Regions from separate parts of the Homo sapiens genome. Here region 2 is reported to be linked to region 1. Evidence: microRNA targets listed by miRTarBase, many of them from high-throughput screens and not tested one by one. Region 1 holds a microRNA gene; the other region holds the end of a gene's coding sequence.

Region 1 (4,355 bases):
TAAGATAAATACCACATAAATAATTGCTAAACGTGAATTCTGTTTTTCTAAGTTTTAACAAAATATGCAAAGAACAAAGACCACCAATGAAAGTGGATGGGAACATACGTATTCTACACACAGTTCCATTTTGGAAGGTTCTAGGGCCTATTGAAATTGGGTGTTTAAAAAAAAAAGATAACACAGGAAAATTATTGTAGTTTACCTCTGTCTCCTACAAGCTGATGTATTTGGCAGGGTTACTATTTCCCAGGGCAAAGCAGGTCTTTTTTTTCACGTTTTGACTAACGAACTAGAGGCTACTGCAAAGAAAGAAGAAAAAGAACAGTATTAACGCATTTATTTGCACAGCACCCCAATCTTGACCCTCAATTTTTTCAATCGCCCCCACAAATAAAGCCCGGCTGTTTAGACCTGGTGAACCGCCAGGAGCCTGGAGCTCTTTGTATTAAGCAGCTTCTCGGTTAGGGCGCCCTCCCCCGGCGCCATGCAACCAAACGCTGGCGGCGCGCTGTAACCTAAGGCCCACACCCGTCTTTTCTTTTCTAGGGGATGTGGAGACGCTGGTAGCGGGGCCAGGAAGGCTCCGGACGGAGCAGGTTTTCTGGACCACAGACACACTGCCCCGGCGCCCTCCGCAGGCCGCTCCTCCCCAGGCCCATGACAGTGCCCCGCTGGTTTCTGCCGCGCTGCCGGACTGGAGCTCAGACGGCCTTCGCCAGCCCCCCCAACCCACGCAGATCCCTGCTGACCTGGGCAACTCCCCACCCTCGCTGAAGGTTCGAGGACCACCCCGCTTTCCCGAGAGGAGCCGGGCGGCGGGTACTTATCTCCGACCTCCGGCTAGTGGGAAAGGCCGCGCGACCGCCCGTCCTCCAACTACAGGGACCGCACGGTACGCGCCAAGCACAGCCCCAAAATGGACTCGCGGCTCCGGCTAGCTCCGCCCCCTTCCCTCTCCCGCTTCCCCTTCCCCTCCCGTCCCTTCCCCCTCCCCTCCCGTCCCTTCCCCCTCCCCTCCCGTCCCTTCCCCCCTCCCCCTCCCTTTCCCCTCCCCCTCCCCCTCCCTTTCCCCTCCCCCTCCCCCTCCCTTCCCCGTCGCCCGCCTCCGCCTGCACCTCCGGCCCCGCCTCCCCGTCCCGCTTCGCCTGTGTCCCGCCTCCCCGGCCGCGCCTCGCCTTGGCGGAGGGAGCCGGGTGGTGAGACCGCGTTCCTTCCGGCGTCTCCAACCGCCGCCTGCTCCCGCCGTCCACCCGCGCGGGCCGCCTGGGACGGGGAGGGCCGGGCTGCGGGCTTTTCTCCCTTCCAGAGTCCTGCGCCCGCCCAAAGCCCCCCCGCAGAGGCTGGGCAGCGGCTCCGGGAAGTGGACGCCGTTTGCCCAGACGGTGGGCTCGACTGAAGCGGCGCGGTCCCGGGTGGGGCCGCCCGGGAAGAAAGTCTCCCAGTTAAGCTGCCGTGCAATTAAGATGGTTGGGTTTGGATTGTTGTACTTTTTTTTTTGTTCGTTGCATTTTTAGGAACAAAAAAAAAAGCCCAACCCTTCACACCACTTCATCCGCATCTCAAGACCAGAAGCCGACCCCAGCGGCTTGGGGAAATGGAGCCCCGCACCCCACAAGGGGGAGGGTGGGACGGGCACCTCCGCACTGCGCGGCCTGCGGAGTCACCGATTCGCGTTGGGAGCGCGCCAGGAGCGCCAGGGCTCTAGCCGGGGGCTCCGGGCAAGGCGCAACCAGAAAAGGGTTCAGTATCCCCCATCACCCCCACCCCCAACCGTACCCTCTTTCTTTGCGGGCTTTAGGCAGGACACCAGAGACCCAATTCTATTTAAAATTCTCTTTTAAGAAAAGGAACGCCTGTTTTTGCCTTTGGGGGAAAGGATGAACTTTCAAATTGGCTTTAAATTATCCACCACTAACAGTTACTCAGTCGATAACCTGACTATTCTGACGTCCACCTCCCGTTTGAGGACCTTGCCCAATAGCAAACGTACTAAGCACTTAACCAGTGAACGGTGTGAAGGATGCAAACATGGATGATGAAGGAATGGCTCCTCCAGAATTTACGATCTTGGGAGAAGTGAGGCGAGTATAGAATCTCAGAACACGCTGTAGGATTGAGTTCGATCCCAGTTGAGGAAGTTTGGGTTTGGGGAGGAAATAGGTTATTTTGGAGAAACGGTATTCAAAACCTACCATAAATAGCAGTACAGCCCGTTGACTAATAATGCTTAGCCCAACCCCCGTAAAAAGCCCCTGGCCACATCCGTCTCCTGAGATTCCCACTTCTCTGTGTGCATCTCCCTTCCTGCTATAAGAAACCTAACTTTGCCTTCGTAGAACACTTCTTTTAATTTCTGTCATTCAGTCTCATAACACTGTGTAAAAGAAATTATGATCTTCATCCTATATAGATGAGAAAACAGGTGAAGTGACTTTTCCAAGGTACAAAAGCAAGAGGCAGAGCTGAGGCTAAAGGCAGCTTCCAGATATGGGCTCTTTCTACAGCACCATAACTGTCAGTGACAAAACTGCACCCCAGTACCTTACTAAATTTAGTGTTTTTAGGCCAGGCACGGTGGCTCACGCCTGTAATCCCAGCACTTTGGGAGGTCGAGGCGGGCAGATCACCTGAGGTCAGGAGTTCCAGACCGGACTGACCAACATGGTGAAACCTGGTCTCTACTAAAAATACAAAAATTAGCCGGTCATGGTGCCGTATGCCTGTAGTCCCAGCTACTTGAGAGGCTGAGGCAGGAGAATAGCTTGAACCCGGGAGATGGAGGTTGCAGTGAGCCGAGATCCTACCACTGCACTCCAGCCTGGGCAACAGAGCAAGACTCCGTCTCAATAACTAAATTAATTAATTAATTTAGTGTTTCTAAAAAAACAAAGTGATCTGTAGAAACATCTCATTTATTTGTTGTCATTGTGTGTTGATTGATTTTGAGACAGGGTCTATCTCTGTCCCCCAGGCTGGAGTGCAGTAGCATGATCATGGCTCACTACAGCCTCAAGCCCCTGGGCCCAAGTTATCCTCCTCCCTTAGCCTCCCAAGTAGCTGGGACCACAGACATGCGCCACCACGCCTGGCTAATTTTATTTTTTGTAAAGATAGAGTCTCACTATGTTGCCCAGGCTGGTGTCAAACTCCTGGGCTCAAGTGTTCCTCAGGCCTCAGCCTCCCAAAGTGCTGGGATTACAGGCGTGAGCCACCACACCCAGCCATATGGAAACATTTCAGATATCCTAATATTAAAATGATATTTCACAAGACTGGACAGTTATTAACTCATGTGAAAGGAAAATCTTGGGGCCCCAAAATCACTAAGCTAAAGGAAAAAGTCAAGCTTCGGAGAACTGCTTAGGGCAAACCTGCCTCCCATTCTATTCAAAGTCATCCCTCTGCTCACTGAGATAAATGAATATCTGATTGCCTCCTTTGGAAAGGGTAACCAGAAACTCAAAAGAATGCAGTGATTTGCCTCTTATCTCCCTAAAACCTGGAAGCCCGCCCCCTGTTTTGAGTTGTCCCACCTTTGCTTCAAGTCGTCCCACCTTTTCTGGACTGAACCAGTGTTCATCTTACACACGCTGATTGATGTCTCGTGTCTTCCTAAAATGTACAAAACCAAACTGCTCTGACCACCTCGGGTTCTGACCTCCTGAAGCTGTATCATGGGCACGCATCCTCAACCGTGGCAAAATAAACTTTCTAAATTAACTGGGACATGGCTCAGATTTTTAGGGTTCACACGCAAAACCCACAAATTATCCTTAATATAATTATATAATATATATTTATGTAGTTAGATCTGGTTGGTGGTAGATACTAATACACTTTTGCCCAACTAAGTGTAAAACACATTAAATCTGTATAGCAATCTCTAGACTATTACACAAAATTAACTACTAACTAGAAAACACAGTATATTAAATTCTCTTAAGTGTGGAAAAATGGAGAAGGAAGAATAACCTTTTCTCTCCTCCCGTGGTCCTAATACACAGAACAGCGACTGGGAAACTGCCACTAGAAAAAGATGACTGTCCAACTAAAACCTGCATACACAGCTACATCCTTCCCTGGAAGAGCACAGTGGAACTAGATCCTAGTACAGATAGCACAGGGATTGTCAACATTCTTGTCACACTGAAATTTCCTTCTACTGATCTCCAAGTAAGTAACTAACAGCTGAAACTTGGAATTTATATATCAGCACAGCACGAAGACTATAGATATATCTAGTCTTATGTAAGTTTCATATTGTGTGATAAATGTATTGCCCCCCCCGCCCCCGAATGCCGGCCCCTTGAGAAATATATTTTTACAGGGTAGAATTTCTAATATATATAAAA
Region 2 (4,177 bases), not on the chromosome of region 1:
GAGAGCCCCACGGCTGGGGAAGATTGCCATGGGATTGGAGATGAGCTCCAAGGACAGCCCTGGCAGTCTGGATGGAAGAGCTTGGGAAGATGCTCAGAAACCACAAAGTGGCTGGTGCGGTGGGAGGAAAACCAGAGTGTATGCTGTCCTAGAAGCAAAAGAAGAAAGTGTTTCAGTGTTTCTAGGAGCAGGAAGTGATCAACAGCCTTAGATCCTCCTTTTAGGCCAAGTAACATGAGGACTAAGAATTGACCACTGGATTTAGCAATGCAGAGGTCCTTGTGGCCCTTGATGTCGGCAGATGAGGGCAGTGTGGTCCAGAGATGAGGCTTGGGGCTGAGATGCAGCCCCGCTGCCTGGTCCAGCTCCTCCCTCATCCAGGCAGGGCTCCCCCGCCCAGCAGCCACTCCCCTCCCTGCCTGCTCATGGCCCCCTGCTCTCCCTTTCCTCCCCATACCCCCAGACCTGTGCTTGCCCGGGGAGAGTCAGGGCTCTCCTGTCAGCTGGGTCCCCTCCCAGCCCCGGGAGGCCGCCACTGGAGCCCTGCCTCTTCCTGGCAGGGAGCATCGAGTACAGCTGTCCGGCCTCCAACGAGTGTGAGATCACCAAGCGGAGACGCAAGGCCTGCCAGGCCTGCCGCTTCACCAAGTGCCTGCGGGTGGGCATGCTCAAGGAGGGTGAGCGCTGGGCAGGGGCTGGGCGAGGGCTGGGGGAGTCGGGGACCCGGGCCAGGTGGGGGTGAGGCCTGGGAGTTCTGGTGAGTGGACTCGGGGAGGACAGCTCTGGAGAGCAAGCCCCACCCTGCCCACAGCACCACAGTCACAGTCCTATCTGTCCCACAATTCAAGGAGTGCGCCTGGACCGCGTCCGGGGTGGGCGGCAGAAGTACAAGCGGCGGCCGGAGGTGGACCCACTGCCCTTCCCGGGCCCCTTCCCTGCTGGGCCCCTGGCAGTCGCTGGAGGCCCCCGGAAGACAGGTGAGAGCACTGTGGGTACCTGGGGCTACGAAACCGGAGGCCTATGTGTGGCATCATAGTTACCTTGGGCACTGGGACCTGTATTTCCCCTTCGTCTCTTCACTCACTCATTTCCCCAAGACATGTGAAACTGCCTTTTCCTGCATCAGGAAAAGTAGTAGAACTGGGAACAGGGACGATTTTCCAACACTCACAGCCTGTCCACAAACACACGGGCTTTCCCTGGGAGACAGTTAGCGCTCTTCCCTGGAGGGAAGTCACTGGACAGCTGCTACTGAGGAAGGCCACAGGGGGAGCCACTGTGGGAAGATGCTTGACCCCTGAGGCCTGACAGATTCGAGTGCTCCTGACTCTTGTCCTCTAATTGTCACAGCAGCCCCAGTGAATGCACTGGTGTCTCATCTGCTGGTGGTTGAGCCTGAGAAGCTCTATGCCATGCCTGACCCCGCAGGCCCTGATGGGCACCTCCCAGCCGTGGCTACCCTCTGTGACCTCTTTGACCGAGAGATTGTGGTCACCATCAGCTGGGCCAAGAGCATCCCAGGTAAAGGGCCCAGGTGACCCGGGGCTGCCCTGAACGGGCCCGGCTCTGGTGCGCTTGCTCAGCCAGGCCCGCTCCCCGCTGCCCCCTAGGCTTCTCATCGCTGTCGCTGTCTGACCAGATGTCAGTACTGCAGAGCGTGTGGATGGAGGTGCTGGTGCTGGGTGTGGCCCAGCGCTCACTGCCACTGCAGGATGAGCTGGCCTTCGCTGAGGACTTAGTCCTGGATGAAGAGGGGGCACGGGCAGCTGGCCTGGGGGAACTGGGGGCTGCCCTGCTGCAACTAGTGCGGCGGCTGCAGGCCCTGCGGCTGGAGCGAGAGGAGTATGTTCTACTAAAGGCCTTGGCCCTTGCCAATTCAGGTGAGTCTGGGGCAGGCACTGACAGGTGAGGTGTCTCCGTAAGGTCTTCAGGTTAACTCAGTGACGGTAGCACAGCCCCATTTTGCAGATAACGAAAACTGAGGCTTAGGGAAGAACAATGACTTGCTAGAAGTCAAAAAGCAAGCCAAGTGCAGGCTCCAAACTGCACACAGGATTTTGAGCCCTAGTGCCACACTAATGCAGAAAGGTCATTTAGTGGGAGGGAAGGTGGGGAGGGTACAAGGTGGCCACAGTTGAGGGAGAGAGGGTGGGGTCCTGGCCCACGAGCCGCAGCAATGAGTGGTGCCTCTCAGTCAGCCAATCAACAAATCCTCGTTTGGCTCTTCCTTAGGCCCCATCCAGCAGTGCTCAAGATACGGGGAGTGCCCTTGCCAGAGATAGCCCAGGCCAACACCACATTCCTCTCTTCTTGCAGACTCTGTGCACATCGAAGATGCCGAGGCTGTGGAGCAGCTGCGAGAAGCTCTGCACGAGGCCCTGCTGGAGTATGAAGCCGGCCGGGCTGGCCCCGGAGGGGGTGCTGAGCGGCGGCGGGCGGGCAGGCTGCTGCTCACGCTACCGCTCCTCCGCCAGACAGCGGGCAAAGTGCTGGCCCATTTCTATGGGGTGAAGCTGGAGGGCAAGGTGCCCATGCACAAGCTGTTCTTGGAGATGCTCGAGGCCATGATGGACTGAGGCAAGGGGTGGGACTGGTGGGGGTTCTGGCAGGACCTGCCTAGCATGGGGTCAGCCCCAAGGGCTGGGGCGGAGCTGGGGTCTGGGCAGTGCCACAGCCTGCTGGCAGGGCCAGGGCAATGCCATCAGCCCCTGGGAACAGGCCCCACGCCCTCTCCTCCCCCTCCTAGGGGGTGTCAGAAGCTGGGAACGTGTGTCCAGGCTCTGGGCACAGTGCTGCCCCTTGCAAGCCATAACGTGCCCCCAGAGTGTAGGGGGCCTTGCGGAAGCCATAGGGGGCTGCACGGGATGCGTGGGAGGCAGAAACCTATCTCAGGGAGGGAAGGGGATGGAGGCCAGAGTCTCCCAGTGGGTGATGCTTTTGCTGCTGCTTAATCCTACCCCCTCTTCAAAGCAGAGTGGGACTTGGAGAGCAAAGGCCCATGCCCCCTTCGCTCCTCCTCTCATCATTTGCATTGGGCATTAGTGTCCCCCCTTGAAGCAATAACTCCAAGCAGACTCCAGCCCCTGGACCCCTGGGGTGGCCAGGGCTTCCCCATCAGCTCCCAACGAGCCTCCTCAGGGGGTAGGAGAGCACTGCCTCTATGCCCTGCAGAGCAATAACACTATATTTATTTTTGGGTTTGGCCAGGGAGGCGCAGGGACATGGGGCAAGCCAGGGCCCAGAGCCCTTGGCTGTACAGAGACTCTATTTTAATGTATATTTGCTGCAAAGAGAAACCGCTTTTGGTTTTAAACCTTTAATGAGAAAAAAATATATAATACCGAGCTCAAAAACACTGTGTTTGGTGTCATTGGGTCAAGGGTTGGGGATACACACGGCAGAATTCGGAAACAGGGTATAGATCAACAAAAATACACAGTCATAACAAGAAAAACTGGCGCCTGGCACAATCAACTCTCAGTTTCCTCTTCACTCAGCAGCATGTTGGGGATCCCGCGGCTGATGGGGAACATACGTCCAGATTCCGGGCACTGCAGGGTGCCCTCTATCACTTCCACCTGCGGGCAGGGAGGGACAGAGCTGAGCACTGGCAGCCTCAGTGCGGGAGGCAGGTGGCCCGGGAAGCAAGTGATGGGCCGCTTCTCACCTCCAGCAGCAGGTGGTGCATGGTCCTCAGAAACTCCTCATTCTCCTCATATCCCTCAACCGGCCCTTTCGGCACCTGGATCAGACGCAACTGTGGGCAAGAGGCCAAAATTATCTCCGGGCATCCCGAACTCCCGCCTCAGCCCGGCTGAGGTGTGCCCGCCCCGCATTCCCCGGGATATGCTGGGGCGGGGTAAGGATCCTCACGTTATCGGCCGCCTCCAGGAACGCCGACCACTCCACTTTAGGTATCATACGCGCCACGAAGTTGGGGTTGAATTCCACAGGGCAGATACGGACCTCGGTGGCCTGCAGGGCGGAGGAGTTTAGGCAAGCACTGGACCCCGGCCCACCATCCCGCCCGAAAAGGGAAGACTGCCGCCGGCGGGTACCTGGAGGCGCAGGGGGAAGCCACGGGACCCCACCCCCCGCACATGCGAGCTCAGCAGATTGTGGGTAAGCAGTTTCATGTCGCCGCACAAACTCTCGCCAGGCCGGAACCGGAAAAAGG

What was found. Region 1 holds the annotated microRNA hsa-miR-3613-3p (ACAAAAAAAAAAGCCCAACCCUUC, at 1,520-1,543, shown strand). A microRNA usually pairs through its seed, bases 2 to 8, with sites in the 3' UTR of a target mRNA and lowers its output. Matches are read on the target gene's strand: a 7mer-m8 pairs with bases 2 to 8, a 7mer-A1 pairs with bases 2 to 7 and ends in A, and an 8mer does both.
Region 2: the mRNA of TRMT112 is a reported target of hsa-miR-3613-3p. Seed matches in the 3' UTR shown: 7mer-A1 at 3,347-3,353.

What each region holds. Positions count from the first base shown.
Region 1 is chr13:49,993,614-49,997,968 of GRCh38, reverse strand. It overlaps MIR3613 (microRNA 3613), which reads left to right and starts at 1,468; the gene lies at 1,468-1,554. TRIM13 (tripartite motif containing 13) reads right to left here and starts at 927. Exons shown (of 2, transcript NM_213590.3): 1 at 206-927. It overlaps DLEU2 (deleted in lymphocytic leukemia 2), which reads left to right. Exons shown (of 14, transcript NR_152566.1): 11 at 550-895; 12 at 4,008-4,176. RefSeq lists silencers at 1,191-1,320, 1,911-1,960 and an enhancer at 1,501-1,630.
Region 2 is chr11:64,313,391-64,317,567 of GRCh38, forward strand. It overlaps TRMT112 (tRNA methyltransferase activator subunit 11-2), which reads right to left and starts at 4,169. Exons shown (of 4, transcript NM_016404.3): 1 at 4,059-4,169; 2 at 3,874-3,975; 3 at 3,668-3,757; 4 at 3,070-3,578. The coding sequence starts at 4,136. The coding sequence ends at 3,471. ESRRA (estrogen related receptor alpha) reads left to right here. Exons shown (of 7, transcript NM_004451.5): 3 at 561-677; 4 at 849-977; 5 at 1,351-1,521; 6 at 1,611-1,880; 7 at 2,317-3,353. The coding sequence ends at 2,576. RefSeq lists an enhancer at 2,673-3,188.